Linked DNA regions of Homo sapiens: regions 2, 3, 4, 5, 6 and 7 are each linked to region 1. Evidence: fine-mapped expression QTL. A gene starts in region 1. Each other region holds a variant in brackets. All regions are shown on one strand. Distances are from middle to middle.

Region 1 (4,000 bases):
CAGACCTCAAGAGGAAGAGTACTCTGGATTATCCAGGTGAGCCCGGCCTAACTCCATGGGCCACGAAGAGCAGAGAATTTTCTCTGGCTGGAGGCGGAGGAGAGAAGCAGCAGGAGAGGAAGGCAGAGAGATTCCAAGTATGAGAAGAATTCAACCCCATTGCTGGCTCTGAGATGTAGGAAGCTGCATGAAAGAACCAGAAAGAAGCCTCCAGCAACTGACAGCCAGCAAGGGAACAAGGACCCCAGTCCTACATAAAAAATTGGATTCTACCAACGAACTGAATGAGCCTGAGAACAGATTCCTTCCCAGAACCTCCAAATAAGAGCCCAGCCGGCAGGCTGTTTGATTTTGGCCTCGTGAGAGAGACCCACAGCGGAGAAACCAGCAGAGCCAATGGGGATTCCTAACCTACAGAACTGAGACAATCAATTTTTTGTACTGACCAATGAATTTGCAGTAATTTGTTACAGTGGCAATACGAAACACATGCTGCTGAATAAAGTTTCAGGTAAGAGTGGCTGAGGCTGAAGTGTCAAGGTCACGGGCAGTAAAAATAAATGCCAGAGATTTAACGAACGCTGAGGACTAGTAGGTTCCCATCCATCCAGTCTCTATGCTCTTTCACAGTTATTTGTCTCAGCATAAATAGCTCTCTTTATGTTGGGGAAAAGGCTTATGGCATGCCTGTATAAACTGGCCATAAAAATATGAGACAATAAGTTGTGGAAAGCCACAAGAGGCCTCTGAGGAGGAAAGCCTTCTTATTGTCATGATGTTCCCATGCTCTGGGCGAGACCTACTGTCTTACCTATAAACACTGTGTTCAAGGAGAAAGACACTCCTTTGAATCACTACAATGTGGTCAGACATGCAGGCTCCTAGTTAAGCACGCTCCCACTGGTTATTCTCCGACAAGTTAAAGATAACGCTGTTTGAGCACAAAGGAGATTCATTTAAACCGCCACTGCTATAGATGACATGTATGATGCACTGTCTCCCTTTCACCCTTTCGCCCCGAACGTCCGCTTCTTAGATCTAAGTGATTGTACTCAATAGTGTGGAGACCAGAGCTCCCAGGCTTTGGCAGCCTCCATTTTGCAATTGGCCCCCTGGCCCCCAATCTTTATGCACTCTTAACCTGTCTCGTCTCATTCCTTCGTCGCCACCGGACTTTGAGTACCCTACGGGTGGTGTTGAGGCTGGTCCCCAACACTTTTACACCTACAGCTTTACCTGCTAAACTCCTAGGTATTACGCAATATCCAGCTAGTCCTTCACTGTCTCTTTGAAGCCTTCCAGACACCACCCCAATCAATTATCCCATCTTCTGTACTAAGGACACACATTTCTATGCGCCCACTCAAAAAACTATGAAACACCTAACAACCTCCCTAGGACATCGCAGAGGAACTAGTACCCTTAGGACTTTTTCATTGACCCGAGGTTCTATGAATGCTTTTTTATCTAATCATATCCGTCCACTATCAAAACACTCTTACCTTGCACGACTATTTCCCTCCTGGGAGTTGTAAGGGGGCAATGTGGGCTAGTTTTCGGGATGACGGTTCTGAGAACCACGTCGAGCTCACGCTGCGCCTCTGGCTGCGATCCCGCCCCGGAGCTGGTGAGGAAGGCCAGCAACTCCGAATTGCCACGGGCGAGACTTTGGGAGAAATCCTCCCAAAGCGAATCCAGATCTGCGGCGGGGAAGTCGCCCTCCCTTCCTTCAGCATGGCCGGGGTGCCCGGAGTCCCTCAGGGGCACTGAGGCGGCTTCCCTCTGTGCCTCCTCTTGCTGGCACTGGCCCTGGGCCTCCTCAAGTTCGCAACATGCCGTGCCCTGCTCGGGTCCTGATAGCGACCTGGGACCCGGGCCCCCTCCGGGGGAACCCTGGCCGGGTCCCGGACCCCGCTCCTTCTGCTCCGAGCCTGCGCTAGTCCCGGGGCCGCGGGCCTCCGCGCAGGGCAGGGCGGCGCTCCAGCGGGCCTCCAGGCGGGCGCCGCAAAGCCGTTTGTTTGCCACCTGCGGCCTCTCCAGCCACACTTCGACCGCAGCCCAGAAGCCCTGTGGGAGAAGCGCGCCTGGGTAGCTGATCCCGGTACGGCCCACCTCAGCCATGGCAGCCAGCAGGTGTACAGCCCTGGCAGCGGCGCGCCGAGATGACGCAGCCCGGTGGCGCGGCGCGTTGACGTCATGGAGGCGGGGTGCTGGGACCGGAAATGAGAATGGCGCCGCTGGAGATCCTTTCCTGCTTTTGGTTTCCCTGGCAGGGGTTGAACTGTGGAGTGTGTGGGTGAGGAATTTGACCTGTGTTTTATTCCCTTTTGAGAGAATTCTGGGCGTGGTATAGTTACAGAATCAAACATCAGCCAGCCAGCGGGTGTGGAACGCATTGTCCTCAGTACTGATTACCGATAAAAGTCAGGGAGCCTAAGTTTGTGAACGTAAAAGATGAGTCCTCTTATGAAAGCTAACTTTTCTCCACTTGGGTTCTGGTTTGCTTTTAGTGCTGGCATTACAGCCAGTGCCTTCCTAAGTCTGAGTGCAGCCATGGCTGTTTCATAAGAATGATGTAACGTTGTCCCATGAGGGATGAAAGTCATCTGTCACCTACTGTAGCAGGACAAGCCACAGACAAAACTCCTCAGACACCGGATTAAAGAAGAAAGAGGTTTATTCGGCCGGGAGCATCGGCAGACTTGCGTCTTAAGAGCTGAGCTCCCCAAAAAAGAAATTCTTGGCCTGTTTAAAGGCTTACGACTTTAAGGGTCCACGTGAAAGGGTCGTGATAAATTGAGCAAGCATGGGAAACGTGACTGGGGGCTACATGAATCAGCTAACAGAACAGAAAGTTTTGCAATGCTTTTTTCATACAATGTCTGGAATTTACAGATAACACAAGTAGTTTAGGTCGGGGGTTGATGTTATTATTATTATTTTTTTTAACTCCTAGGGCCACGTGGTGGTGCCAAGGTTGTCTGGCTATTTATCTGACTTTTGTTTCTTTCTAACTTTTTGCTTTCTCTCTTTTCCTCCTGTCTTATGAACTAGGCAAGGTGGCAGGGAGGAGGGCAGCAGGAGTAGTAGTGGTCTCCTTATCCCTTCCTTTGAGAATTTTCACAAATTAGTGGGAGTTCTCGCTTTTATTTTTACTTTGAGTCTCTTTGGGAGACAGAGTGATAGTGTTTTATGTAATACACTTGCAGTGAGGGTTTTAAATTCTCTTATAGCTGGAAACTATCTTTTAAATAAAGACCTAGGATCAAACCTGTGTTAAACCAGTACAGGCACATGTGCCAACTTTGTCATGTCCTAAGCAGGTTAGTTTTTTTACTGGGTCTTAAAAGCTTTTTTCCTAGCAAGCAACACAGTATTTCTTAATAATAGGAGTTTTTAAGAGCCAAATGCTTGAACTTGGCATCTGCTTGGGGAAAGAGTTAAAGTAATCTTGAGGCATTAAATCTTTTGCTTCTCAAGGCCATTGGTCTCTCATGTTAGCCTTTTTATAAACATAACATGAAGAAACGTCTAGGCTGCTGGCAATGTTTTCAGCCAGCTGAGCAAATAGGTTGTTTGTTTGTTTTGCTAAAGGAGGAGGCTCTTGTAACTTCTGGTTTATGTGTTTAAAGAATGACTTAAAGACTCGGAATTGTTGCTGGGCTGGACGGGTCTGGGTTTCCTGACTAAGTAGTATGTGTACAATGGGGACACCTTATATAGGTGTTTCTTCTAGCATGGTTATGGGGGGTAACAATAACAAAACAATATACAGCATATTTGTATCCAGCAAGGACAAAAGAGGTCCTTACCTGGGAAAAAGATTGAATACAGTGACAGAACAATAGGAAAACAGTATTACAGGAAAACTATTAGTCTTAAGATTTTTAACTACGTTTACTTGCTTGACAAGTCCTCAAGCTTCGGCCATGCGTAGACTATTCAGCTGCCAGTGCGTGACTAGAGCCGGGCTTGTTGTTTCTTCAAGCTTCAGCCGTGT
Region 2 (4,000 bases), 100 kb after region 1:
AAAATAGAAGTACCATATGATCTAGCAATCCCACTACTGGGATTATGTCCAAAGGACATGAAATTAGTATGTTGAAGAGATATCAGCACTCCCATGTTTACTGTGGCAGTATTCCCGATAGCCAAGAGACGGAATCAACATCAAGCCAAGTGTCCATCAACAGATGGATGGATGAGGAAATGTGGTATATATAATGGAATACAATTTGTTCATGTAAAATAATGAAATCCTGTCATGTCTAGATACGTGGATTTTGTAGGTCATTATGTGAAGTGAAATAAGCCAGGCACAGAAAGACAAATATTGCATGATCTCACTCATATGTGGGAGCTAAAAAAGTTGACCTCATAGAAAGTAGAATAGTAATTCTCACAGGCTGGTAAGGGTAAGGAAGAGTGGTTTAGGAAGAAGTTAGTGAATGAATGGAAAATTACTAGGGTGACTACAGTTAACAATAATGTATTAAATATTTAAAAACAGCTAGAAGAGAAGATTTTGAATGATTTCAACGCAAAGAAATGACATATGTTTTAGGTGATGGCTATCCCAGTTGCCCTGATTTGATCATTACACATTGTATACATGTACTGAACTATCACATGTACAAAATAAATAGGTATAATTATTACATATCAATTAAAAAATTTTAAAGATCTTAGAAAAAAGTTGCGGCCGGGCACGGTGGCTCACGCCTGTAATCCCAGCACTTTGGGAGGCCGAGACGGGCGGATCACGAGGTCAGGAGATCGAGACCATCCTGGCTAACACGGTGAAACCCCGTCTCTACTAAAAATACAAAAATTAGCCGGGCATGGTGGCGCGCGCCTGTAGTCCCAGCTACACGGGAGGCTGAGGCAGGAGAATGGCGTGAACCTGGGAGGCGGAGCTTGCAGTGAGTCGAGATCGCGCCACTGCACTCCAGCCTGGGCGACAGAGCGAAACTCCGTCTCAAAAAAAAAAAAAAAAAAAAAAAAGGTTGCATGTGCATGTAATCTAAGAAGTTAAATAATCCCCAGGGCTTTCTATAAAAACCAGCAGTGCCCTGCCCCTCTACCCCACCCACTCAAATTATTCTTCCCCATAGGCAACCACTTCCTTTATTTTTTTTTAAAAAAAAAAGCCAATTTTGTTGGTGTAAGAATACCTCAGAATATTGCAAGTTTTGTTCCAGACCATTGCAATAAAGTGAATATCACAATAAAGCAAGTCACACAACTTTTTTGGTTTCCCAGTGCATATAAAAGTTATGTTGACACTCTACTGTAGTCTACTAAGCATATAATATTAGCATTCTGTCTTAAAATGTATATACCTTAATTTCAAAATATTTTATTGCTAAAAAATGCTGACACAGACACCAAGTGAGCACATGCTGTTGGAAAAATGGTGCCGATAGACTTGCTCAATGCAAGGTTGCCACAGACCTTCAATTTGTAAAAAGAAATGTAGTACCTGTGAAGTGCGATAAAACAATGTATGCCTGTATTTTCCTAAATAACATTCTTATATTGCTGCTTTTCAATTTTCCAGTTTAGTCAAGACCTATTGACTTCCCTTCATGGAAGAGGAGGTTTTAGCTTTCCCTCATTTCCTGCCCCCAACCTCACACCCTCCTTCCCATCAGCCTACCCCCAAGCGCAAAGAGAGTGTGATTCGTGTCAGATTGTTTTAGTTTAAGATCTCTGAGATGGAAAGCAGCCTTTCAATGATTAGGAGAAACACAAGATGGAAATAAAGATTTTATTACTTACAGGTCCTGAGGGTACACGGCATGCCCAGAGGCCACACACACAGAAGTCAGGGAGCATGTGAGGGAGAGAGACAGAAGGACCCTTGCCTTTATTGGAGTCTAGGGCATTCTCTATACAGATTTCCTGCAGGAAGTTTTAATCGGTGGGTTTGAAGCAAGCAGGCACAAGTTCCAGAAGTCATGCTGTGACTGAGAGGTGGCTACTGTGGCATATCTGCACGGTCCATGTGGGGTGAGTCAGTGGGATGAGTCAAGAAGGTTGTATCTGGATGTTCCATATGGAGGTGTTCACCAGGAGGAAGTTGCATATGCCAGATATCTGGATTGACACATCAAGGAACTGGGAGGAAGTGGAGAACTGGAAACCGTGTCGATGGTGATTGAGCCCTGCTTCTGTATGAGAAAGTCCAATTTATATTCAAAATCAATGTTGAGGCAACATAAAATTATAAGAACTCACCACATAGATAAGCATGATTATATAAATGTAACTCAGAGCAGAGCTGTGTAATATACTATGATTACTTTTCCCTTCTTAACTTTTCCCCATAAAGATATTGTTTTTTG[T/G]TTTTTTTTTTGTTTTTGTGTGTGTGTGTGTGTGTGTGTGCGTGTGCATGCCTAATGCTAATGTAACCCCAAACTCTCTGCCTGTTGTCTAAATCTCCTCTCTAGACCTTGGGACACATCAGCTATTCCATATCTCCCTTGTTTTTATGCAGTTCATGCTCTGTTGACTTTCTAATGATGGTTCTGGGGAAGTAAAAATTATTGCAATCCTAAATGTCTGAAAATGACCTTATCAGATCTGCAGCCTTGATCGACAGTTCGGCTGGGTATAGAATTCTAGTTTGGAGATCACTTTCCTTCAGTAAAAGGCAGGCAGAGGCCAATTTTGCAGGAATTGCCTCATCATCTTCTAGCTGTCAGTATAGCTATCATCAAGTCTGAAGCTGTTCTGATTCCTAATTCTTTATATGTGACCCTTCCCTCTTCTGTTACCTATACAAAATTTAAATGAACAAATAAATGATTGATTTTTAGAAAAGTCTTATTTGGCCCTCATTCATGTGTTCTTTGGATAGAAAAAAAGTTAAGTCTTGGTTTTACATATGGTCATGGAGACTAGACTAAAAAAAACTCAGAATAATTCAAGGCTGAAACAGTGGCTTTGTTTTTTCCCTCAAATTCATCTAATGTGGAGCCACTGGGGCGTTACAATGTGAGGGAACTAAAAGTACAATCAATTTATTATTGTCACAACTATCTCACCTGTCAGCTGTGAGAACTGGCTGAGGTGGTGTCTGGCACACTGAACACAGTGCCTGTTGTGAAGTAGGCCCATGGCAGGTGGTGCTTCCAGAACTATCTTCTCCTGCACCGCAGCACTGCTCTCTCCCCATCCACCCGCTTGGAGCAGGAGGTTTTCCTGAGACACCTAAAACATACCTGGCCCTGGCCCTCTCCTACAACAGCTGCCTCTTGGGTCTCCATGGCCCTTAGTCAATGGTGTCCTGGTGCCGGCTTCACCCTGCTCAGCTAGCAGAGCCAACTGTGTGCATCTCCTCCCAGCTCTGCACCAGCGACCTTGTGTTGGCAACGTAGGGGGAGTATTCACACTGTGGAAACTGGGGAATGCTGCACGTCACACTGCCCCAACCAAGAGCCAGTTGTTAAACATTTACCAGCACAGCACCACTTGGGACAACAGCTGAGTGTCTCAACCCAGCGTGTCTGTGTCCACATCCCCAAGGCTCGCATTGCCCGTGGCGTGGAGTAGGACTCACGAAGCTAGTGTTGGCTGTACGTGTGGTGTGTTCAGTGGACACTGAGCACAGCACCAGGACGATCACTGTAGGGGAGGAGTGGGAGGGTGGTGGGTTCCAGAAGGAACCCTGACTGGGAAAGACCCAATCGTATAGTGCCACAACCCCAGGGGCAGGTGAGCACTGACCACTCACCCAAGGCTCCAGAGAAGCCAGGAGGGTCCCTGGGAGGAGTACGCCCTGCATTGCAAAGCCCTGGATATTTCCAGGAACTTGGAGAAGGATTTTTCCTTTTCAGAGGCTGCAGCTGTTACCCCAGGAAACCTCTTTCTTATGGGGTCAGGAGACCCAGGCTGGGTCCCAGCCTCACCAGCACCCAGGACCTAGCACGCAGTGTCTGTAGAGTCAATGAACAGATGTCCCGCTGGGAGTCAGGCATGTTGCTTTGTGCTCTGAGCTTCCCTTTCTCATCTATAAAATGGGGGTA
Region 3 (4,091 bases), 92 kb after region 1:
GACAACAGTCCCGCCCTGTGTTCTCTGTGTCCTTGCCCGTGTGTGCCCAGGCCGGCTCTGCTCTCGGCTTCCGGTTCTCCCTCCTCAGTGTGGGGCTTTCTCAGGATCTAGGGTAGCCACAGTGTGAGCTCTGGGCGGACCCTTGTCTGCGCATCCCAGTCCTGCACAGAAGGCCTGGCCCCTGCGGAGCCTGGCCTTTGTATCTGTGTGAGCACCACCCCTACACACCTGGCCATCTAGCCCTTCCCAACCCAGGACGGCTGGGAGGCGCTCCCCCTCTGTGCCCTCCCCACCCTTCCCCACGTCCCTGACCAGCAGCCTCTGTGTGGATGTGAACATAGTATAGGCGGCAAGACTCGAGTTTCCCCTGGCGTCAGGGTCACAGGAGCCTGTCACCTTCCGACCCAGCCATGGCCTGTTCTCCAGAAGGAATCACTTGGTGGGCCTCTGTCACCATTGGCTGCAGCAGCCCCAGCCCTCAGGACAGCACTGACTGGGCCTGGCCACTCCTCTCAGCGGCCTGGAAGCTCGTGGAGCCCAGGACCCAGGTCTGGAGGGTCCCTGTCTCCAGCTCCCAGCACAGGGCCGCACACAAACACTGGGAAAGCACTCAGCAAGCCCTGGAGTGGAATGGGGGAATGATGAACAAGTGAAGTGAGTGAATGAAGAAGTGAGTTAATGAATTAAAGGAATGAATTGGGCAGGTCTAGATGGTGAAGCAGGAAGGGGGCCATGCTGGCCAGTGCGCCAGTGCCGGACTTCCAGGCATGGCCTCGCCACTCCAACCAGTGTGGGTCTCTGCCCTCCCCACAGGAGACATGGGCTCTGCTGTCCCCCAACTATGGGCTGTGCATGAGGGGCCGGCTCCCCTCTGTTCCCCTGACCAGGGACGGGTGTCTCCTTGCTGTGCCTCTCGTAGGACCCGCGCGTGAGGGGCTCAGCTGAGGTCAGTGGTGAGCCGAGGAGCTTGGACGGAACCACCTCTACACCAGGCAGGACGTGTGGGCAGCCGCAGAAATCTTGCTGCAGTATGCCATGGCTAGATGGAGTCTGCCAACCAGGGAAAAGTCCACTCTTCCTTGCAATATCATTGCATTTTAAATTCTTTAAAAACCATCACCAGGAAAAAAAATTTAAAAAGCTGCGGCTCCCTTCCAGTCCTATTAAATGAGCAAATGCTCTTTCCAGAGATCCTTACTTGCCAATTACAGTAACTGAGGAATTTTGTAAGGTATGCATTTCTTTTCGCATATAGGAATCCTGTATAAAATAACAGAGCACTGAAGAAAGACTCTGAAACTGCCAAGGGAGGTCGGCCCGCTGCCCTCAGCCTCTGGCATTCTGCATGGGATCCTGGCCTCTGGGTGAAATGTGCTAGAGCTGGGCTTCAGAAACGCAGGCAGGTTCCTCCTGGCCCCTCCCAGAAGTGAGGTCAGCATGGGAGAAGCCACTCCAGGGAGGAGATGACCCTCTGCCTTTCCTGAGGGAGAGGAGGTCAGCAACAAAGACCTTGAAGGTCCCGGGTCTTCCTTTGCAAACACAATGCTGTGGGAGTCCTAGCTCTTTACATCCTTCCCTGGAGTGATGACCACACAAGGTGTTACAGGTTCAGTTGCATCCCCCTACAATTTGTATGTTGAAGCCCTAACCTCCAGGAGTGCAGTGGTGCGATCTTGGCTCACTGCAACCTCTGCCTCCTAGGTTCAAGGGATTCTCCTACCTCAGCCTCCCGAGTAGCTGGAACTATAGGTGTGTGCCACCACGCCTCGCTATTTTTTTTGTATTTTTAGTAGGGACAGGGTTTCACCATGTTAGCCAGGATGGTCTCTATCTCCTGACCTCGTGATCCGCCCACCTCTACCTCCCAAAGTGCTGGGATTA[T/C]AGGCGTGAGCCACCACGCCTGGCCAAGACAGGGCTTTTTAAGAGGTGATTAGGCCGGGCGCGGTGGCTCACGCCTGTCATCCCAGCACTTTGGGAGGCCAAGGTGGGTGGATCACCTGAGGTAGGGAGTTTGTGACCAGCCTGACCAACATGGATAAACCCCATCTCTACTAAAAATACAAAATTAGCCTGGCACGGTGGCACATGCTTGTAATCCCAGCTACTCGGGAGGCTGAGGCAGACAAATCACTTGAACCCAGGAGGCAGAGGTTGCTGTGAGCTGAGATCGCGCCATTGCACTCCAGCCTGGGTGACAAAAGCAAAACTCTGTGTCAAAAAAAAAAAAGTGATTAAGGTAAAGTGAGGTCATCAGAGTGGGCTCTAATCCAGTCTGACTGGTATCCTTATAAGAGATGAGGACACAGACAGTCACAGAGGGATGACCAGGTGAGGACACGGAGGGAAGGTGGCATCTGCAGGCCGAGGAGAGAGGCCTCAGGAGAAACCAATCCTGTCGACACCTTGGTCTCAGACTCTCAGCCCCCTGAGCTGTGAGAAAATAAATGTCTGTTGTTCCAGCCCCCAGTCTGTGGAACCCCACTATGGCAGCCCCAGTAGACTGATAATCATTCATTCCCTGTGGGATTTTTGTGAGCCCAGCCAGGGACCAGATGATTCCACCTATTTTATTTTATTTTATTTTATTTTATTTTATTTTATTTTATTTATTTTATTTTACAGACAGGGTCTCGCTCTGTCACCCAGGCTGGAGTACAGTGGCACGAGCTCAGCTCACCACAACCTCTGCCTCCCAGGCTCAAGTGATTTCTCCTGCCTCAGCCTCCCGAGTAGCTGGGATTATAGGCACCCGCCACCATACCCAGCCAATTTTTGTATTTTTTTAGTAGAGATGGGGTTTCACCATGTTGGCCAGGCTGGTCTTGAACTCCTGACCTCAAATGATCCACCCGCCTCGCCCTCCCAAAGTGCTGGGATTACAGGCATGAGCCACGGCGCCCAGCTGATTCCACCCATTTTAGATAAGGAAACTGAGGCAGAGAGAGGCTTAGTGGCTCATCTGAGGTCCCTCTGACAGTGGGGCACACCATACCCTGGGGCCAGGTTTCAACTTCTGGTCCAGGCTGTCACCTCCCAGAGGAAAAAATCACACGGTTTAGGGCTGCTGGATGATACAGGATGTTCAAGGGAAGCTGTGAGGAGGCACGTGCAAGCCTGGGAGGCCCAGGGTACAGTTGGGGCCTGATGCAGAAGCCAGCGAACTGCCATCTCACTTCCTCTTCCACCAGCCCTCCAGCCTCCAGAGCCCATCCTCCAGTGAGGACGTGGGCCATAGGAGGTCAGGAGCTGGCATGCAAACTCAAGTTCACCAGGCTCCAAAGTGTACTAGGGTGTCGCTGGAGAGAAACTGCAACCAATTTATGATTTACAGGGTCGTTCGCGCACATTATCTGATACCATCACCTCATGCCCATCACAAGGTCAGGATGAGCCCCGTTTTCCAGATGAGGAGACTGATTTCCAGAGAGCTCAAGTGACCAGCCTGTAGCCCCTGAGTGAGGGAGGAGAGGAGCCCTCGCTGCCTCTGCCCTGGTCTCTGCCCCAAATGAGGAGCTCCCACGGGACTGGGCACTGGGCACTGGGCATGGGGTAGGGGACCTTGCAGTGCTGACACTCAACGCATCAGAAGGAGGTGCTGCACCACCCACCCCCCTGCCATGTGCTACAGAGAACCACAGGCAAGGGGCATGGAGACGACTCAGTGCTGTGGGCTCTGGATGTTCTGCAGCAAACTCCTCCTTCTAGAAGGTTCCTTCCCTCCGCCCTCACTTCTGAGATGGCGCTGAGTCCATGGAGGTACACAGGGAATTGATACCTGGTGCCACAGAACACAGTTGGGTGATTCTTTCTGATTCTGAGTACTTGGGACAGGCAGGGTTTTAAAGACTCAATCTAAGGAGCATGTCAAGGAACAGATTCAAGGTAGGCTTGGGGTGGTCCACCCTCACCAGGACCCATGGAGAAACAGGCAGCAGCTGGAGGCTCAGACCTCCCTCAGCTCCCCTACGGGGGTGTGTTCTCTGGCTCTGCAGTGAGGTAAGCCTACCCTAACCCTAACATGAACCCTAACCCTAACCCTAACCCTAACCATCACAGAAAGTGCACGGGGCAGAAAGGCAGAGGCTTGCGGT
Region 4 (4,091 bases), 82 kb after region 1:
CTCAGCCTCCTGAGTAGCTGGGACTACAGGCGCCCACAACCACGCCTGGCTAATTTTTTTTTGCATTTTTAGTAGAGACTGGGTTTCACCGTGTTAGCCAGGATGGTCTTGATCTCCTGACTTCATGATCCGCCCACCTCGGCCTCCCAAACTGCTGGGATTACGGGCGTGAGCCACCGCGCCCGGCCTAAAACAATTCTTTAACTCTTTAATCTAGGTAAGAAAAATCCACATTTCCATGTGTTCTTATAATCTTTTACCAAAAGACACATTTCACTTTTCTTACACATCTTGCATGTAAAACTGTTTTTTTTAGCAGTCTTAATTACATGTGACGATGTTAATTGTTAGTGACTTTTACTCTTGGTGAAAACCTTGGTAAGTTGGGGATTCTAATTGTGTACCAGGTGTGGAATTTAGCCTAGGACACACCAGGCAGAAGTGCAGATAAGGGGGCTGACTCCAGCATAGCTAGGGGCGTGGCTAACTCCACATGTCCCTGGCCTTATCTAGAATCTAATGCTCCAGAGTAGGAAACTGAATAATTTTTAAAAGTCAGGTTGGGCGCAGTGGCTCACCCTTGTAATCCCAGCACTTTGGGAGGCCAAGGCAGGTGGATCACAAGGTCAGGAGATTGAGACCATCCTGGCTAACACAGTGAAACCCTGTATCTACTAAAAATACAAAAAAATTAGCCAGGCGTGGTGGCGGGTGCCTGTAGTCCCACCTACTCGGGAGGCTGAGGCAGGAGAATGGCATGAACCCAGGAGGCGGAGCTTGCAATGAGCCGAGATCGCACCACTGCCCTCCAGCCTGGGCAACAGAGTAAAACTCTGTCTCAAAAAAAAAAAAAAAAAGTCAAAGAAGCAGTTTATGACCTTAAAGCATTTAGCAAACTTAATATCTCACCTGCATAATTTAGACCAAATGTTTACATGTTTGAAGATATTTTTATTTTGCCAATAATCTTTAAAACTCCTTATTTCCCAAAGATTACTTCAGTCACATGAACTAAAAGGCATTACACTTTTTACTTTTCTGACAAAATATTTAAGCACTTATTTTTAAACCAATTAGTTAAAGCTCTTTCATTCATAAACATCACACACATAATACATATAAATACATAGAAGATAAAGAACTTATTTTCCAAGCCAGGAATTGAACCCTGAACCTGGGCCACCATTGTGAAAAGAGAAAGCATGGCCACATGGTTACAAGGTCAAGCTCCCAAGAACATAGAAGACAAGAAGGAAACCTCATCCAGTTTTTTGAGGGACCTGCAGCAAAGTTTGTAATTGACCAGTTTGCTGAGCTGTCTTGAAAAGCAGGCTTAAAGGTGTCCTAAGTCCGTGCTCTATCCTAAGGTACTCCTCTTTATGACAGAGCAATACAGAAAGACACAGAAAGCACACCAGACCTGGTTGGCTACAGCTTAAGACTAGCCTCACAAATCCTTTATTCCATTAATCAAAACTTTACAGGAGATAAACAATTATTTTTTACAATTTATTCAACCAGTTTGCACAGAGAGAGAAAAGCATTGCCTGAGGCAGGATGGGGAAGGCGAGGCGCTCAGGGAGGTCAGAGAAAGACCCATCCATTGCAGCAACACTGAAAAGTTTAGGTGGCTGCTTGTCAGTCATGAAGGGATCTTTTCCAGCAGTCCCGTCAGCTCCCAAGTTTCCCCGTTTAAGGAGGAAAAAACTCCCCAAGTCCTACAATCCTGTACGTGGCTAATTCTGTCACTCACAGCCATCAGCAAAGAGTGCAAGGCAGATTAATCCCAAGAGAATAGCAGTTAACATCCCATAGTGCCAAACCTGCTCTTAGCCAGAAGCGACTTTACTGAGAGGGACCTTACTGAGAGGGGCCTCTAACCCCCTAAATCTGAGAAGGGACTCTAACCCTCCTGAGTTGGGCCTCTAACCCAAGGTTGAGCAAGCGTCCTTACCTTTCCTTAAGAGGGGCCTCTAACCCACTGTGTCTTAGGACAGACTCTAACTCCCCTACGTTGGGCCTCTAACCCAATCCCATCCTTTACCCAGGTACCCCACCACTTATTCAAAGTC[G/A]GCCAACCAGTGGTGCAGTCTACTTCTTTTGGGTTGAGGGGTCTCCTCAGTATCGTCCCTTCCATGATTCACCAGAAAGACGTTACCAGACCCTACCACTTACCCAAAGTTACTCTTTGGGTCTGGGGTTTCCACACTATAGTCACTTCTGTGGTCGCCAGAAAGATGTTACAGGACCCCATCACTTAACCAAAGTAAACCTTTGAGTCAAGGGTTTCCACACTATGGTTCTTTCCATGGTCACCAGAAAGATGTTACAGGAAAGGGGTCCCAATCCAGACCCCGAGAGAGGGTTCTTGGATCTCACGCAAGAAAGAATTCAGTGCAAGTTCATGAAGTGAAAGCAAATTTATTAAGAAAGTAAAGGAATAAAAAAAGGGCTACCCATAGACAAAGCAGCCCTGAGGGCTGCTGGTTGCCCATTTTTATGGTTATTTCTTGATGATATGCTAATCAGGGTGTGGATTATTCATGTCTCCCCTTTTTAGACCATATAGGGTAGCATCCTGACGTTGCCATGGCACCTGCAAACTGTCATGGTGCTGGTGGGAGTGTAGCAGTGAGGATGACCAGAGGTCACTCTTGTGGCCATCTTGGTTTTGGTGGGATTTAGCCAGCTTCCTTATTGCAGCCTGTTTTATCAGCAAGGTCTTTAAGACCTGTATCTTGTGCTGACCTCCTATCTCATCCTGTGACTTAGACTACCTAACCATCGGGGAATGCAGCCCAGTAGGTCTCAGCCTCATTTTACCCAGCTCATATTCAAGATGGAGTTGCTCTGGTTCACACGTCTCTGACAGGTAGATTCAAAAATTTCCTGATTGGCAATGGGTTGAAAGAGTTAAGCTTTGTCTAAAAAGTTGAACTCAGCTTGAGTTAAGGTGGGGGCGGGGGTGGTTGTGGAAGCCAAGGTTTTTGTTATGTTGATGAAGCCTCCGGATGGCAGGCTTCAGAGAGAATAGATGTGCATGTCTCTTATAGGCCCTTAAAAGGTGTCAGAGTCTCCAGAAAAAGCCTAATAAGGGAAGCAGATTCTCTGCAGAATGCACATTTCCCCCATGAGAGACAGCTTTGCAAGGGCCATTTCAACATATGTCAAGGAAATATATTTTGAGGTAAAATACTTTGATTCCTTCGGGGCTACTATGTGTCATGTGATGCTATACCGGAGTCCCGTTGAATTGGGTATCTTATTGCTACAGAGAGTCTGTTTTGTCAGTCTAGGATCTCTGTTTTTATTTTAATGTTGGTCAGTTGTGTCTAAATTCCAGAGCGGGGCAGGTATAATGGGGCATCCCGAGCCCTCCTTCCCATTCATGGCCTGAACTGGTTTTTCAGGTTTCTTTGGGTCCCGGTGGCTGCAAGGGGATGCACTCAGTTGGCTGGGGGACTTAGAATTTTAGTTTTGGTTTACAGCAGGATTTGATGGGCATGCATATTTATCAATGTGAAAGTGTTGTCTGTGGGCGGCGGAGGGCTTGGGCCGTGTCCAGGCCACGCACTGCAAGGGTGCAGCCCCCACACACGGTCCCTGCTCCTAAAGCTGTTGCCCCCACTGCAAGAGTGGAGTAGGTTGAGGTGTAGCCATGACATTCTGGAAACTACATTTTTTGTAATAGTCATTTTGAAAATAAAACATTTGAAAATACTGTGCAGCAAAAACTTGAATAATTGGAATAAAAATGTTCAGTTTAATGTCATTGCTTGCTGCCACCGTTTTCTGATTGTAAAACTAACGTGATTATTAGGTACTATTTTGGTAATGTAGAAAACTTTAAAGATGAAAATAGATATCACTTATAACTCCACATGGAGAAATAGTTGCCCCTCCAATTTAATTGATTTACTTTTGGGCCACAGGGGCCCAGAATTTGATTCATTGTACTCCTTGGTTCATGCCAGTGTTCCTGCACCCAGCACTGAAGCTGAACATTGACAGTGATTTGCCCCTGCCCCAGAGTCCTCCCTGCATTCCCCTCGAGGGCCCCCGTCTCCTGGCCCTGGTGTCCACTTTTCTCT
Region 5 (4,091 bases), 34 kb before region 1:
AGGGTACACTGCAGAAAGTCAACGGCAGAACAGTGTGGACTGCATGTGACCTTTTGTATAAAACCATAGAAATAACTTTAAATAGAAACATCGGGGGTCAGACGCCATGGCTCGCAGCTGTCATGCCAGCACTTTGGGAGGCTGAGGTGGGAGGACTGCATGAACCCAAGAGTTCAAGGCCAGCCTGGGCAACATAGCGAGACCCCGCCTCTAAAATTTTAAAAGTTGGCCAGGCATGGTGGCGTGCATCTACAGTCCCAGTCACTTGACAGGCTGAGGCAGAAGGATGGCTTGAGCCCAGGAGTTCAAAGCTGCAGTGAGCTATGATCTTGCCACTGCACTCCAGCCTGGGCGAGAGATCAAGACCCTATCACTTCATAAAAATAAAAGAGAAACAAATCAGGATTTTTTTTTCTGGAAGGACTAAAAAGGACTGCTGCAGTATTTCTGGGGAGAGGGTCTCATGGAGGAGGGAGGAAGGTGTAGGTCTTACCTTTGTCATCTGTGATATTTACATTTTTAAAGCCCTGTCAACAATTCACTTAGGATTTTTTTTTCATGCCACTTAGAGTGGCCCATGTCAGGAAATTATGAGTGTTTTTATTCTCTGTAACTCTAAAAACAACCTCAACATAGCAAGCCTGACACCTTTTTTAAAAATACCAATCTGGTGGATCCCTGCTCCAGAGCAGCTGCTCTCCAGTGTGGTGAGAAACGCTGGCAGATACGGTCTTACTTCTCGAGGAGCCCCATCCTCTTCACAGATGTGGACATGGTGGGGCAGGCGTCGGACAGCGCCCTGGGAAGGGCCTGTGCAAGGCAGCCTCAGCCGCTCTCCCCCAGGAGACATTGTAAGGATCCGTGCACAATCTTTATGATATGAAGATGCTGCGCACGTTTCAAGCGGCTGCATCTGAAACAAGCCAGGCAGTCAGCTGGGGGCTTCCGAGTAACTGTGGCTTCTCTGGCGTGTGATGTTTATGAAATACGGTTCATCACTGTGAGGATGTGGAGAAAGCTGGGAGGAGGTGGGCTGAAACACAGCCAGAGCAGAGACCACAGCACTGACGACTGCTGGGGAAGCTCTCCTTGGTTTGGCCTCCCCAACCAGGCCTCGGCTGGCAAGGATGCAGCTCATGAAATCTTCTTCCTCGGGGTGGTCCGGGGTGGCCGCAGCTCCGCAGGCCCATGGGCAAACGGGCAGCAGTCCGTGGACAGAGCGCAGCCATCAGGGTGATGCATGAAGAACCAGCAGAGGCGGGTTTTGCAGGCTTCAGAGAGCAGTCTCTGTTTCGCTTCCGGTTGCTTTGTCTTCCACAGTGTCTCCTCTCGCCAGTCGCGGATGTGAACTCTCCCATTCACAACTGTGGTTTGGAACAGAGAAGACACACTGAGAAGTAAACCTGAAAGTTCCTTAATTCACCAGCCTCTCTTTAGCTCCCACGCCACGGGAGGTGCCAATCCAGGGTCAGGGATACAACCGGAACACAGCCTAGAGTTCCTGCTGGTCACAGTGAGTCTGCCTCCAGTGGGAGTGACTGAGGTATGGGATGTGTCTTCAGGCAAGGCCGGGGAAGGTGAGCCCTGCGGGAAGTGAGCGGCAGCCCTGCGCAGACCCAGGAAGAGCATTTTA[G/C]GCAAAGCAGCAGCAAACCCGAGTGTCCCAGGACAGACTGCACCAGGACTGGCCACATTCGAGGGACAGCCAGAGGGGAGGGCAGAGGACAGAGCTGGGTCCCTTGTGGCCTCATCATTGAGGCCACCGACCTTCCCTCTGGCTGAGAGGCAGGTCCTGCAGAGCCACCATTTTAGAAGGATCACTTGAGTGGAGGAAGGAGGGACCACGGTGTGAGAGCCGAAACACGAGAAAACATCTGTGCTGCAGCCCCGACCTCTGAGGACTGTGTCAGCATTACGGGCAGAAAGAGGGGCAAGGCGCAGGTCCCTCCACGCAGTCTAAGGACGGGGCTGGTGCAGGGCAGCCTCTGCTCCTTGGTGCCGTCCCGGTGCACTGGGTTTACATGCGCCTCCCAACCGGAGCCCCTCCAGGTGCAAGTGTGGAGTAACAGAGGCCAATGAGCTCTGGAACAGGAACACGAAGGGGGACCTGCCTATGTGCAGTAGTTTAGATACCCCCTCTGAAAGTGCCACTGGGACCCAATGGCCAGGGCTGATCTCCAAACTGGGGAGCTGGAGGGACATCAGAGTGGGGTGGGGCCAGGAGAGGGCTGCTGTGGGCCCGCTCGTCACCTGGGTCCCAGGCCTCGCAGGCCTCCTCTAGGCTGCCTCCTGACCCCGCCGCCCAAATTGGGCCGAGATACCCCCCTACGCTCCCATTTGGCCGTTTCCTTGTGGGAATCCAACAACTCCCCGTGAAACATGGCCAAAGCAACCACCTCCTTCCTGGTTCTCGCTGGAAGCTAGGAAACCGCTCACGACAGAAGGCTCGGGGGAATAAAGGAGCCTCAGTGAGGAAGTCTGGCTCACCGACTTCCAAAGAGAACTTGAAAGTGTAGGAATTAAAGCTCGAATTCTGCCTTCAAATCACCTTGTGTGTGGCAATAACGAGCCTGTGTGCTTTTGACAGACTGATGTTTTACAGTTTCCCCTGAAACTAGAGAAATGAGCCCAGAGAACGGCGCCACAGTTGGGGGCTCACCCTCACAGCCTGGCTGGAAGCACCGCCAAGGCCAGGCCTGACCCTGTTTGCCCTCCCACGGCTGCCTCTCTGTCTCGCCTCCCAACATTGGAGCTGAGGTTTCTTAACCTGAAGTCTCCTGTTAAGGCAGTCCCGCGACACTCTGCCCATGTCCCCACAGCAGCACCTCCTGGCGCAGCACAGAAGGGCACATCCTGGCCACTGAGGGACCTGGAACCCTCTAAAGGGTGCTCAGGAGGAGCCCCAGGGGCCAGAGCTTCCCCCCAACTCCCCATGATCCCAAACAGTGAGGGGCCTCTGGCCTGATGCCCTGACCTGTCAAGAGAATGGGGGGTGGGGGATCACTGAGGCCAAAGGCTGAGTACAGATTCCCCTCAGAGCCAGCCTCGGCACCCCCTTCCCCACCACAACGTGACAGGCCAGCTGGCGGCAGGCCCTCCCACGCGGCTCCGGAGTTAAGAGCACACCCAACCATGTTTTGGAAGCAGGACCTGCAGGGTGTCTAAGGACTGAGGAGCGGGCGCTGATGATAGAGATGAGGCTCCCGAACGGCGCAGGCAGGCTCCAGGCTGGCCCAGCCTCACTGACCCACTCCCCGTGTCTACAACCCTGGACATGGCAGGTAGCTCCCGGCCGCCCCTCTTAACACCTGAGCCCCCATCTGGCCAGGTGCCAGAAGGGGCGGCCTTCCAGAGGCACTTGCTCTAGCCAGCTAGAAAGACAACCAACAGCTAGAAAGACTCTCCTCCTCTGGAAATGTGCTCCTCATTTTGAAATGGAACCACAGAGCCACAGTCTGCTCCACCCAAGTTCCTGCCGCCTCCTCCCTCCTTACCGTGCGCATCCCCTGGGACTCTACCTCAGCACAGGAGCCGCCATCTCCACCACTGCTTCTGACAGCAGACAGACACTCCCTTTCACCAAGTTGCTCTGAGGAACGGGTTGAGGATTACAGTCCTCGGATGATGCCATAGGCTCAGGGGTGCCAGTGCTGGGTCAGACCTGGCCCGGACTGTGGCGTGGCCTCTCCACTCACTGGGAGACATCGGGCCGGCGCACTGACCTCTCTGAGACTTGTCTACATGTTCAAGGAGGAAAGGCCTGCTCTGCCATGAGTGCAGGATGAGATGAGGCCCCGCGTGTACCCGGCAGCACGGTGCCAGGCTCCATACCAGCCAGCATGGATGCAGCGCGCCGCCCCTTGGCGGCCTCAGGAAGGGGCAGGGACAGAGGCAGGGCTGGCCCTTGTGGCCCTCATGGGTCATGCTCAGGGCTGGCTGACCTGAAGCCATCTGGAAACATTTCCAATTCCTCACTCTCATAAACATTTTCTGAGACTAGCCACGTTAGCTTAAAACAAAACCTAAACCTCATACAGAGATAAGACCCAGCTTCAGAGCATAGTTTTCGCATGACTGGAGGAGAATGTTTATTT
Region 6 (4,091 bases), 62 kb before region 1:
GGGCTGCAGAGGTGCTGGGAGGTCAAGGTGGCAGAGCTGGGGCTGAGTGCTGGCCTCCCAGGGCAGGAGGCTCCTCCTGCACCCTTGAGCCTGGAGCACCCTCCCTGCATCTGGCCTCAGTGCACCTGACTTCCCACAGGCAGAGATGCCACCTCCTCAGGGGCTGCAGCCTCCTGTTCGCAGATGGAAGATGCAGCTCTGAGGGGTGAGGAGTCACAGCCGGAGCAGCACCCGGACAGAAGCCTGCTCCAGCCAGTTTCTGCCACCTCTGTCCTATCTCTCCTTTGAAAGGTGAGGGACAGGGACCTAGAGAGGCTGCCAGGGCCCTCAGTGTAGCACCGCCTCTTCCTGAGAGGTCACGCAGCCAGGAGAAAGGACAGATCAGCTGTTGTTGGTGGAGGGAGTGGGACATGGAGGGGGCATTCCTCTGCGGCTGGGGGCAGCATGCAGGGGAGGGTGGGTAGAGCAGAAGGTGAGTAATGACCAGAATCAGCAGGACCCAGACCAGGAGGCTGGGGGAAGTGGTAGATACAGCAACAGGTACCCTGCGGGGGCCTATTTAGAATCCAGAGAAGTGGCGTTCAGCCCCAGGGAGCTCAGGGACTGGGGTGGTGAGGCAGACGGGGCTGGCACTGGCAGGGCAGGGCTGCCACCATGGAGTGCAGTTTGCAGGTGCAGCCAGGGTGCCTGGGTTGTGACAGGGGCAAGAGCAAGGGTTTGGAGCAGACCCTTGAGACCCCAGGAAGAGCTCTGCCAAGCTTCAGTGCCCTCTTCCCCACAGGGAGGATGAAGGGAACTTCCTCCCGGGTGGAAGAGATGAGCTATTGAAGGTGGATACAGACTTGGCGCAGGTCCACACCCAAGGATTGGCAGGACCTGTGCACACTACAGACTCGGCACAGGTCCACACCCAAGGAATGGCAGGAGCTCCGTACACGCTGGGGGTCAGCATGGAGCCCAGGTCTGGACACAATGAGTGGGGCGGGGCAGGAGCTGCTGGCTGAAAAGCTGGAGCTGGCACAGCTCCAGGGGAGGAGGGCAGCAGCGCAGGCCCGGGAGGAAGAGGGAAGGCAGTAAAGCTGGCGCGGGTACCTGGCGGGGAAGGGAGCAGGCACGGGCAGAGGGGATTCCCTGCCTTAGTGAATGGGGGCCATTGCTCAGCCCTGCAGGAGCGCAGGAGACTTAGGTGGGCCATGGGGAAAGCCGAGGAGGTGGGGACATGAGCAGCATGGAAATGGTGCTGAATCTCAGGCTGAGGGGCTTACACCATGCCATGTCCATTCCATGCAGTGCAGACCCCTGATGCAGCCCCTGCCCCGCCCTGAGACCCTCCCAGCAGCCACCACCAAGATGCCCACCAACCTCAGAGGCTCAGAGGCTGGAGGGGGAGCAGGAGAGAGCAGGTGTGGACGGGTGCGGGGACTGCAGAGGGCACCACAGGCTCGGGAGCCTCGGGGGAGACGCTCTGTCCCATAGCTTGGGAGCGAGGCCAGGACAGGCTGAGGTTTGCAAGCCTTGGCACCGAGGTGCGTGTGAGGGCTTGCTGGAGACGAAGCTAGCCAGGAGGATAAGAACAAGAGGGGCTCAGAGCCTTCCGGAACTCCAACATTTAGGAGGGTGAAGGGGAAGCAACCAGGGCACTGAAGAACAGCCAGAGATGCGGGGACATAGGACAGAACTGGGAGCCAGGGCCCAGGCCAAAGCAAGAGAAGAGGAAGCTTCTGGACGGGAATTCTGTTCCCAAGAGAAGCCCTGTGACCACCTGACTCCCGTTGATGGCAGGAACCCTGTGTGGGCATCGGGGTGGAAAGTTCTCTGCACCTTACTGGGTGCTGACTCTTTGCTGTGTTCTCTGAGGTATGTGGCCCAGGAGTTCCACCAAACCCTCCATCCGGGTGGCTGCCTGAGATCATTCTGCAGGCTGGGGCCACAACAGAGGCCACCTCTGGGACCGAGTGCTGTGTCCCTTGCTGGTGGGTGCATGGCCCTGTGCACACTGTCAGCCCAGTGTCCTCCACACCTGGGTCCGGATTCCCATGTGGGTGATTCTCTTGCTTTAGGCTGCTTCCCCGGGGCAGATGCTTGAGCCGGTCCGACTGCTGCAGCCACGGCCTAGGGTCTGCTGGGATAGAGTGCCACCCTTTCCGGGGCTGTAGGGGACAGCTTGCCTTGCAAGGTGAATGGAGTAGACCCTCAAGGGTGTGTGTGCAGAGCGGGAGAACACCCCTAAATGCGGCTCCTGCAGCCTGGGGAAGGGG[T/A]CGGGTTTCTTTGGCTGAGAATTGTCCAGGAACCCCTGCCAAGTCCAAGTCCTCCCTCTACAGATAATGAAGCAGAGACCCAGTGGGAAAGCAGCCCAGGGTCACAGCCAGAAACCAAACCTTGGCCTCTGCCTCTCATGTGGGAGGTGAGGGGTGGGGAACGCCCCCTCAACCCATGACATTACCTCATCCCGATGGTATTCAAGCCTGTGCTGAGTCTGTGTGTGCCTGTGTCTGTTGTGTGTTCAAGGGTGAAGAAGAAGTGGTCTTGGGCCAATCCAGAGAGTGGTGGGCAGACCCTGTAGTGGCCCATGTTCCCCACCTCCTGGCACTGACACCTTTGATTAATCTCCCCTGAGTGTAAGCGGGATCTGGGAGCTGGGACCTGGGACCTGCGTCTCACCAATAGCATCCACCAAGGCAATGGCACTGCTTCCTTGACAGCCTTGCATAAGATCATAACTGGTTGTGCTGCTGTGTGTGAGCTGGCCCTGGGAGAGGGCCTGTGGCCAGGAAAAATCAACCCCACTTTGCCAAAGAGGAAACTGAGGCACAACAAGTCTCTGGCCAACAGCCAGCAAGGAATCGAATACTGCCAACATCCTGGTGAGTGTGGATGCAGAGCCTGCCCCAGCTGAGCCTCGGCTGAGACCAACGCCCTGGCTGGTACCGTGATTGCAGCCTGATGTGACCGTGAGCAGGGAACCTTGCTAAGCTGCACTCACACTTCAGACCCACTGCACCATGAGCTAAATATGTGTCCTTGAAACCACTAAGTTCGTTGTAGTTTTTTAAGCAGCTGAAGATTAGAAATATTCAGAAGCTTCCTCTCCCTCCACCTGACCCCCTGCTTCATCAGAGGATTGCAGATGTGGTCAACAAACACCAACAGGAAGAAGGCAGGGCAGGGTGTCTATTTCATGGCGGCTGCCTGTCCCGAGGACCATTCCCATGGATGCACTCAGGGCAGTTTCTGGAGTCATTCCTGGCAGAGTATTCTGAAAACACACCCATTAACCTTCAGGGCTGATATCAACAGGAGCCCCCGTTTTATGGGTCAGAACCATTTTGGAGAATGTCACGTTATGACTCACAGAACCAAATTTATTCTCCCTCTTTGAACAAAACAATCAATAGCCCTTCTGTAAAATTCAGCTGCTGCTCAGAGGACCAGTTGTCTGTCTCCTCCTGGGAGAGGAGTTACTTCCCCAGGGACCCGGGAAGAGGCGGGAAGCCAGCTGTCCCCAGAGTGGCACCAGTCTTCTCAACAGAGAGATGTGGGCAGGGGTCAGGACCAAGAGCAACTTCTGGAACCTTCCAGGCAGCCTTCTGGTTTTTGGATGGAGAGGCTGGGGCCCAGAAAGGACAGGGGCTGCTGAGCTCACAGCCGATGGCAGCAGAGCCCTTGAGACTCCAGTCACTGAGGGCCCCAACTGAGCACCTCCCAGCTAGCTCCCCATAAGAAGAAAGAAGGGAAGAAGGGGAAAGGAAAAGGGAAAGGGGCAAAGAGGGAGAGGAAGAGTCCAAAAACATCTCAAATAGCAAAGGAATGTCCCGTCTGCCGGAGCCTGGTGAGAAGGCCCTTGTGTGAAATCGCTAACCCTCACTGAGTTCTCACAGTGGCCAAGTGCCCGCTAAAGCTGTTAGGCTCCAAATGTACTCAACCTTCTCAACAATCCTCTGCCAAGATTATCCTCATCCCCATTTTTCCCAGGAGGAAACTGAGGCACAGGAAGTTGAGTGACTTCCCCAAGGTTGCAAGTTTTTGAGGCAGAGCTGGAATTTGAACCCAGGACATCCGGTCCCAGAGCTCATGCTGCTATTAATAGCAGC
Region 7 (4,091 bases), 74 kb after region 1:
TGCAAGGAACTGGTGTATTAACCAGGAGCTGCCAGGTGAGAAATTCACTATAAGCGAACAAACAGAGCTGCAGGGGAGTTGAGACCATCCTTAAATCAAGCCCGCTGCTCCAAACTGTGAAACATAAGCTGGAACCTAGGCCCTGTGGAGCAGCAGCCTGGGTCTGTGTCTGTGGAGCCCAGAGTAGCAGAGTGGGGAGGAGGGGTTGCTAAGTGCATTTAGCGGGTGCAGGCAGAGGGGTTTCTTCTCAATAAAATGGGTCAGCGTAAGCTGGATACACAATAGACCACCTCCCCAGGCCCTGGAGATGGTCTGGGCTGCCCCTTTCCACCCTGCACGGGTGAAGTGTCTGCTCAGCTGCCCTTCGCCCTTCATTTGTACAACCTTCCTCCAAGACAGGAGCGTCTCTCCCCATCTTCCCAGTGAGGCCACTTAGGCTGAGAGCAGTGAAGTCTGCACCTCCCGTAGGGGAGTGCTGGCCCGGGGCAGGACCAGAGGAGCAGGGTGTGGTGGCCCAGGTCCAGAAATCAGCCAGTAAGGGCCACTCGGCGAGGGCATCCTGCTGCTGGTGGCCACGTGCCACCTGTGCGGCCTGTAGCGGCCTGGGGTGTGAGAGCAGATTTCAGAGCAGCAGTCGATGCAGCCTTGCAGCATCCTGCGGTGGCTGCAGTTACTAAGAAACAGCGTGTCCACTGCCACGATCAGTTCTTTTTTTTTTTTTTTGAGATAGGATCTCACTCTGTCACCCAGGCTGGGGTGCAGTGGCATAATCTCGGCCCACTGCAGCCTCAACCTCCTGGGCTCAAGTGATCCTCCCACCTCAGCCTCCCAAGTAGCTAGAACTACAGGTGAACTCCTCCATGCCCAGTTAATTTTTTGCTTTTTTTTTTTTTTTTTTTTTTTTTTTTGTAAAGATGGGGTTTCGCCGTGTTGCCCAGGCTGGTCTCAAGCTCCTGAGCTCCAGTGATCTGCCTTCCTCAGCCTCCCAGAGTGCAGGGATTACAGGAACGAGCCACCTCACCCAGCCAATAATTTCCAAAGAAGAGGGCGAGGGGTGATTTTCATTATAAATGTGTTTTATAGTACTTTATAATTGAATTGTCCTAATTGTTTTCTACTAGAAAAAAAAAGAAAATATTCATATAAATTTAAACCATTTTAAAATTTCTCTAAAAAGTGACAGAGAATTTCCTGTGCTTTTTTGTTATTGTTGTTGTTGTTTGTTTGTTTTGAGACGGAGTTTTGCTCTTGTTGCCCAGGCTGGAGTGCAGTGGTGCAATCTCGGCTCACTGAAACCTCTACCTCCCAGGTTCAAGTGATTCTCCTGCCTCAGCCTTCCGAGTAGCTGGGATTACAGGCATGCACCACCACACCTGGCTAATTTTGAATTTTTTTTTAGTAGAGATGGGGTTTCTCCATGTTGGTCAGGCTGATCTAAAACTCCCGACCTCAGGTGATCTGCCTACCTCGGCCTCCCAAAATGCTGGGATTACGGGCGTGAGCCACTGTGCCCAGCCGAATTTCCTGTGTTTTTAACAAAAACTTTGAGGAGTTGCATTTGCACACTCAGCCGTCTAGGAATCTTTTCCTTCTTATTTCTTTGTCTTCACTTGCTGTGTACGTGTTGTTTGCAGCTCTACAAAAACCTCTGGGGCGCTGTCCTGCAGGAAAGCAAGGTGTTGGAGCGGGCATCCTGGTGGCCAGAGTTTTCTGTGAACAAACCTGTCATAGGAAGTCTGAAATCGAAGCTCTAGTGGGACTGGCACACATTCAGCCAAGTCTAATGAAACGAAGGGAACTAATCAGACGTGGACCTCAACTTCTGATTCCAGAACACGCCGGAGATTGCTGCTGCTTTCTGAGCCCGCACCTGTGCGCCTAAACTGCTGATTGGCCTCAACTGCCCAGGCGGACGGGAGGGAGGCACCCGGCCGGCTGGACTAATCTGGGATCGCGGTGATTTGCAGCGTGGAAAAGAAATGCAGATGATCATGTCTACCTGATGCGCCGTGGGTTTTTTGATAATTAGAATTTCGCACATTCAGTTTTCAGGGTTCAGCTCCTTTCTCTAAAGTAAACAGCCCATTGTCAGGGATCTTCTGGTCAGACAACCTGTGATTCATCTAGATTTTTTACCGAGCTCCACTTCATTGAGAAGTCAATGATGCCAGTCTGGTTCTTTGTCAACTCTCCCTCGGCTTTGTCACATAATTGAATTATGTCATAACCTTATTAATTTGCACATAGATCATCTGAATGTCGTGGTTTAAGA[C/G]TTAAGGAGGAACATCTGTTTGATTACTTTCTTTTGTGGAACTGGAAATTTCCATCGAGGAAATGTTTTTTTAAAAAGTCTAATGATTTGAATGGGCAATTCAGTCTCCAACCGCCCCCCTCCCCCTGCCGCCAGTTATATACAAATCACTTTATTGGTAACATGTATGATCTGTTTGTCCCTGCAGAGTCTACCCAGCAAGTCCTTGCACACATGTGGCCTGTCCCCATGGCGCTGGCCACAGCCTGACTGCAGCAGACCGGGGCCATCAGTGCACGCCTCCCCCGGTCACTCCTGCTCCCTGCAGGGCCATGGGCTTGGCTGCCCTTCCCAGTGTTAGGTTCCCGGAGCAGTTCTGTCTTTGCATCTGGGTCCTGCTTCTTAACCTCTGATCAGCTCAGGGCACGGAAGGCCTTCGTCTTCAGTAGCAGGGAGTTGGGTCACTCTGGTGCCCCCTGACCCCCGTGGCCACACTCGTATCACCACAGCCCATCAAACAGATGTAACCCAGCATGTCTCAGGACGGTGCCGAACCAAATAAGACCAGTTCTTATTTTTCCAGGTAGCCCAGAGAACTTTTGAGCGTCTGAAGGGCATGGTCCAGAATGTTTTTAAAAACTGAATTTCCAGCACTGGAAATCACTTCTGAAGCCATTTTCATGTTAGAAAAGGGTCAGGACACCACCCCCCCACCACATCCCACCCGTCTGGGGCTCCAGGGGCATCTGAGGGGTAATTAGTGACTTCTTTGATGATCACCTACCGCCTGCCAGCACCTTACTGAGCACTCAGGATTCATCATCTCGTGGGACGCTCAGCCAACCGCGTGGGGTGAGCTGTGCCGTTTGCTGCATCTGCAGAGAGGAGACTGGTCCCAATAGGCTGGACACTGCCGCAGGCAGACAGCAGGAGGTGGCCGAGCGGGACCAGAAGCCATGGGACCTCCCTGGTGCCTGAGTGCCCCAGCACAGGGCTGAGACGCAATAGGTAGGTGCTGGTATCCATTGTCACTCGAACCCAGGAGCATCCCCACCTGAATTCATCTTACTCTGGTTTAGAAGCTTCCTTGGGTTTAAACAAACTCTTCGTGGGTTACATGTGTTTTGTCTATGATACTCTTCCTGCTTTCAGAGAGAATGGGAATGAGAGTGCTCAGGCCCTTGCGAATTAGATGGAGCAGTTCCGAGTACAAACCCAGAGAACACGTCAGTGGTGCCTGCCAGTGTCGGAGGGGCTCATTCCCCACTGAGGCTGCCACCCACAGGCCTCACGGGCCCGGGGTCCCCAGCCCCACTGCCTGGGGGTCCCAGCCCAAGAGCAGTTGGGCCTGCGTGGGCTGTCAACTGGGGTCATGCAGATTTCCACCAGGGGTCCCCCTCATAGGATGCCTCAGGCCGTGTGTGTGTGGACGGCTCCTTTACCTAGACCTGTAGCTTTTCTAAGCGAGAAGGAACAGGCTCCCAAGTCCTCTGATGTGCCCGCAGCTAGATTCTAGGTGGTGGCCAGCCTGAGTTAGAGTCACGGTCACTCCTGCCTCACCACCCTCCAGAGCAGGCCCCAGCTGTCCTTGTCTCCCAAGTAACAGCTTTGGGCATCTCCGGAGGGGTTTTCATGTTTTGCCTTTTTTATCACTTGGGACCTTGGTTTGTGGTCTCGTCCAGCCTTTGGTCTGAAACTACCTGTTTTTCTACCAGCAGGTCACAGAAGTTGTTCAAGGTCAAGGGTATGTTCAAGGTTTACAGAAAAAAACACATTTGACTTCGGTGTCATATATGACGGGTTCTCATGCAGGAGAGCTTTGTGATGTCACGATGTCACC

Which allele goes with the higher level. Alleles are on the strand shown, and positions count from the first base shown. SD is a standard deviation of normalised expression in the study named. Not every link is listed here.
With allele T in place of A in region 6, the expression in lung of the gene that starts at base 2,221 in region 1 is higher (moderate effect, 0.43 SD a copy in GTEx).

The links. PIP is the estimated chance that this variant, and not a neighbour inherited with it, causes the effect.
Region 2: its variant is fine-mapped to the expression of ACOX3 in whole blood (INTERVAL, PIP above 0.99).
Region 3: its variant is fine-mapped to the expression of ACOX3 in whole blood (INTERVAL, PIP above 0.99).
Region 4: its variant is fine-mapped to the expression of ACOX3 in whole blood (TOPMed, PIP above 0.99). The same link has a PIP of 0.9 or more in lung.
Region 5: its variant is fine-mapped to the expression of ACOX3 in whole blood (TOPMed, PIP 0.98).
Region 6: its variant is fine-mapped to the expression of ACOX3 in lung (GTEx, PIP above 0.99). The same link has a PIP of 0.9 or more in visceral fat.
Region 7: its variant is fine-mapped to the expression of ACOX3 in pancreas (GTEx, PIP 0.98). The same link has a PIP of 0.9 or more in prefrontal cortex.

The regions. Positions count from the first base shown.
Region 1 is chr4:8,438,944-8,442,943 of GRCh38, reverse strand. It overlaps ACOX3 (acyl-CoA oxidase 3, pristanoyl), which reads left to right and starts at 2,221. Exons shown (of 18, transcript NM_003501.3): 1 at 2,221-2,296. It overlaps TRMT44 (tRNA methyltransferase 44 homolog), which reads right to left and starts at 2,167. Exons shown (of 11, transcript NM_152544.3): 1 at 1,503-2,167. The coding sequence starts at 2,121. RefSeq lists silencers at 1,754-1,813, 1,864-2,073 and enhancers at 1,542-2,275, 2,094-2,333.
Region 2 is chr4:8,334,642-8,338,641 of GRCh38, reverse strand. LOC124900658 (a long non-coding RNA gene) reads right to left here and starts at 3,310. Exons shown (of 2, transcript XR_007058013.1): 1 at 3,197-3,310; 2 at 1,727-2,143. The variant T/G (reference allele first, on the strand shown) is at 2,318.
Region 3 is chr4:8,347,316-8,351,406 of GRCh38, reverse strand. No RefSeq gene overlaps it. Among named protein-coding and RNA genes, the nearest start is that of LINC02517, 29 kb to the right of the region's middle. The variant T/C (reference allele first, on the strand shown) is at 1,882.
Region 4 is chr4:8,357,239-8,361,329 of GRCh38, reverse strand. It overlaps a transcript of ACOX3 not described here. Among named protein-coding and RNA genes, the nearest start is that of LINC02517, 39 kb to the right of the region's middle. The variant G/A (reference allele first, on the strand shown) is at 2,073.
Region 5 is chr4:8,473,045-8,477,135 of GRCh38, reverse strand. TRMT44 (tRNA methyltransferase 44 homolog) reads right to left here. Exons shown (of 11, transcript NM_152544.3): 11 at 581-1,364. The coding sequence ends at 1,135. Among named protein-coding and RNA genes, the nearest start is that of TRMT44, 34 kb to the right of the region's middle. The variant G/C (reference allele first, on the strand shown) is at 1,634.
Region 6 is chr4:8,501,350-8,505,440 of GRCh38, reverse strand. It overlaps a transcript of TRMT44 not described here. Among named protein-coding and RNA genes, the nearest start is that of TRMT44, 63 kb to the right of the region's middle. RefSeq lists an enhancer at 372-1,259. The variant T/A (reference allele first, on the strand shown) is at 2,259.
Region 7 is chr4:8,364,624-8,368,714 of GRCh38, reverse strand. ACOX3 (acyl-CoA oxidase 3, pristanoyl) reads left to right here. Exons shown (of 18, transcript NM_003501.3): 18 at 1,635-2,433. The coding sequence ends at 1,754. Among named protein-coding and RNA genes, the nearest start is that of LINC02517, 46 kb to the right of the region's middle. The variant C/G (reference allele first, on the strand shown) is at 2,273.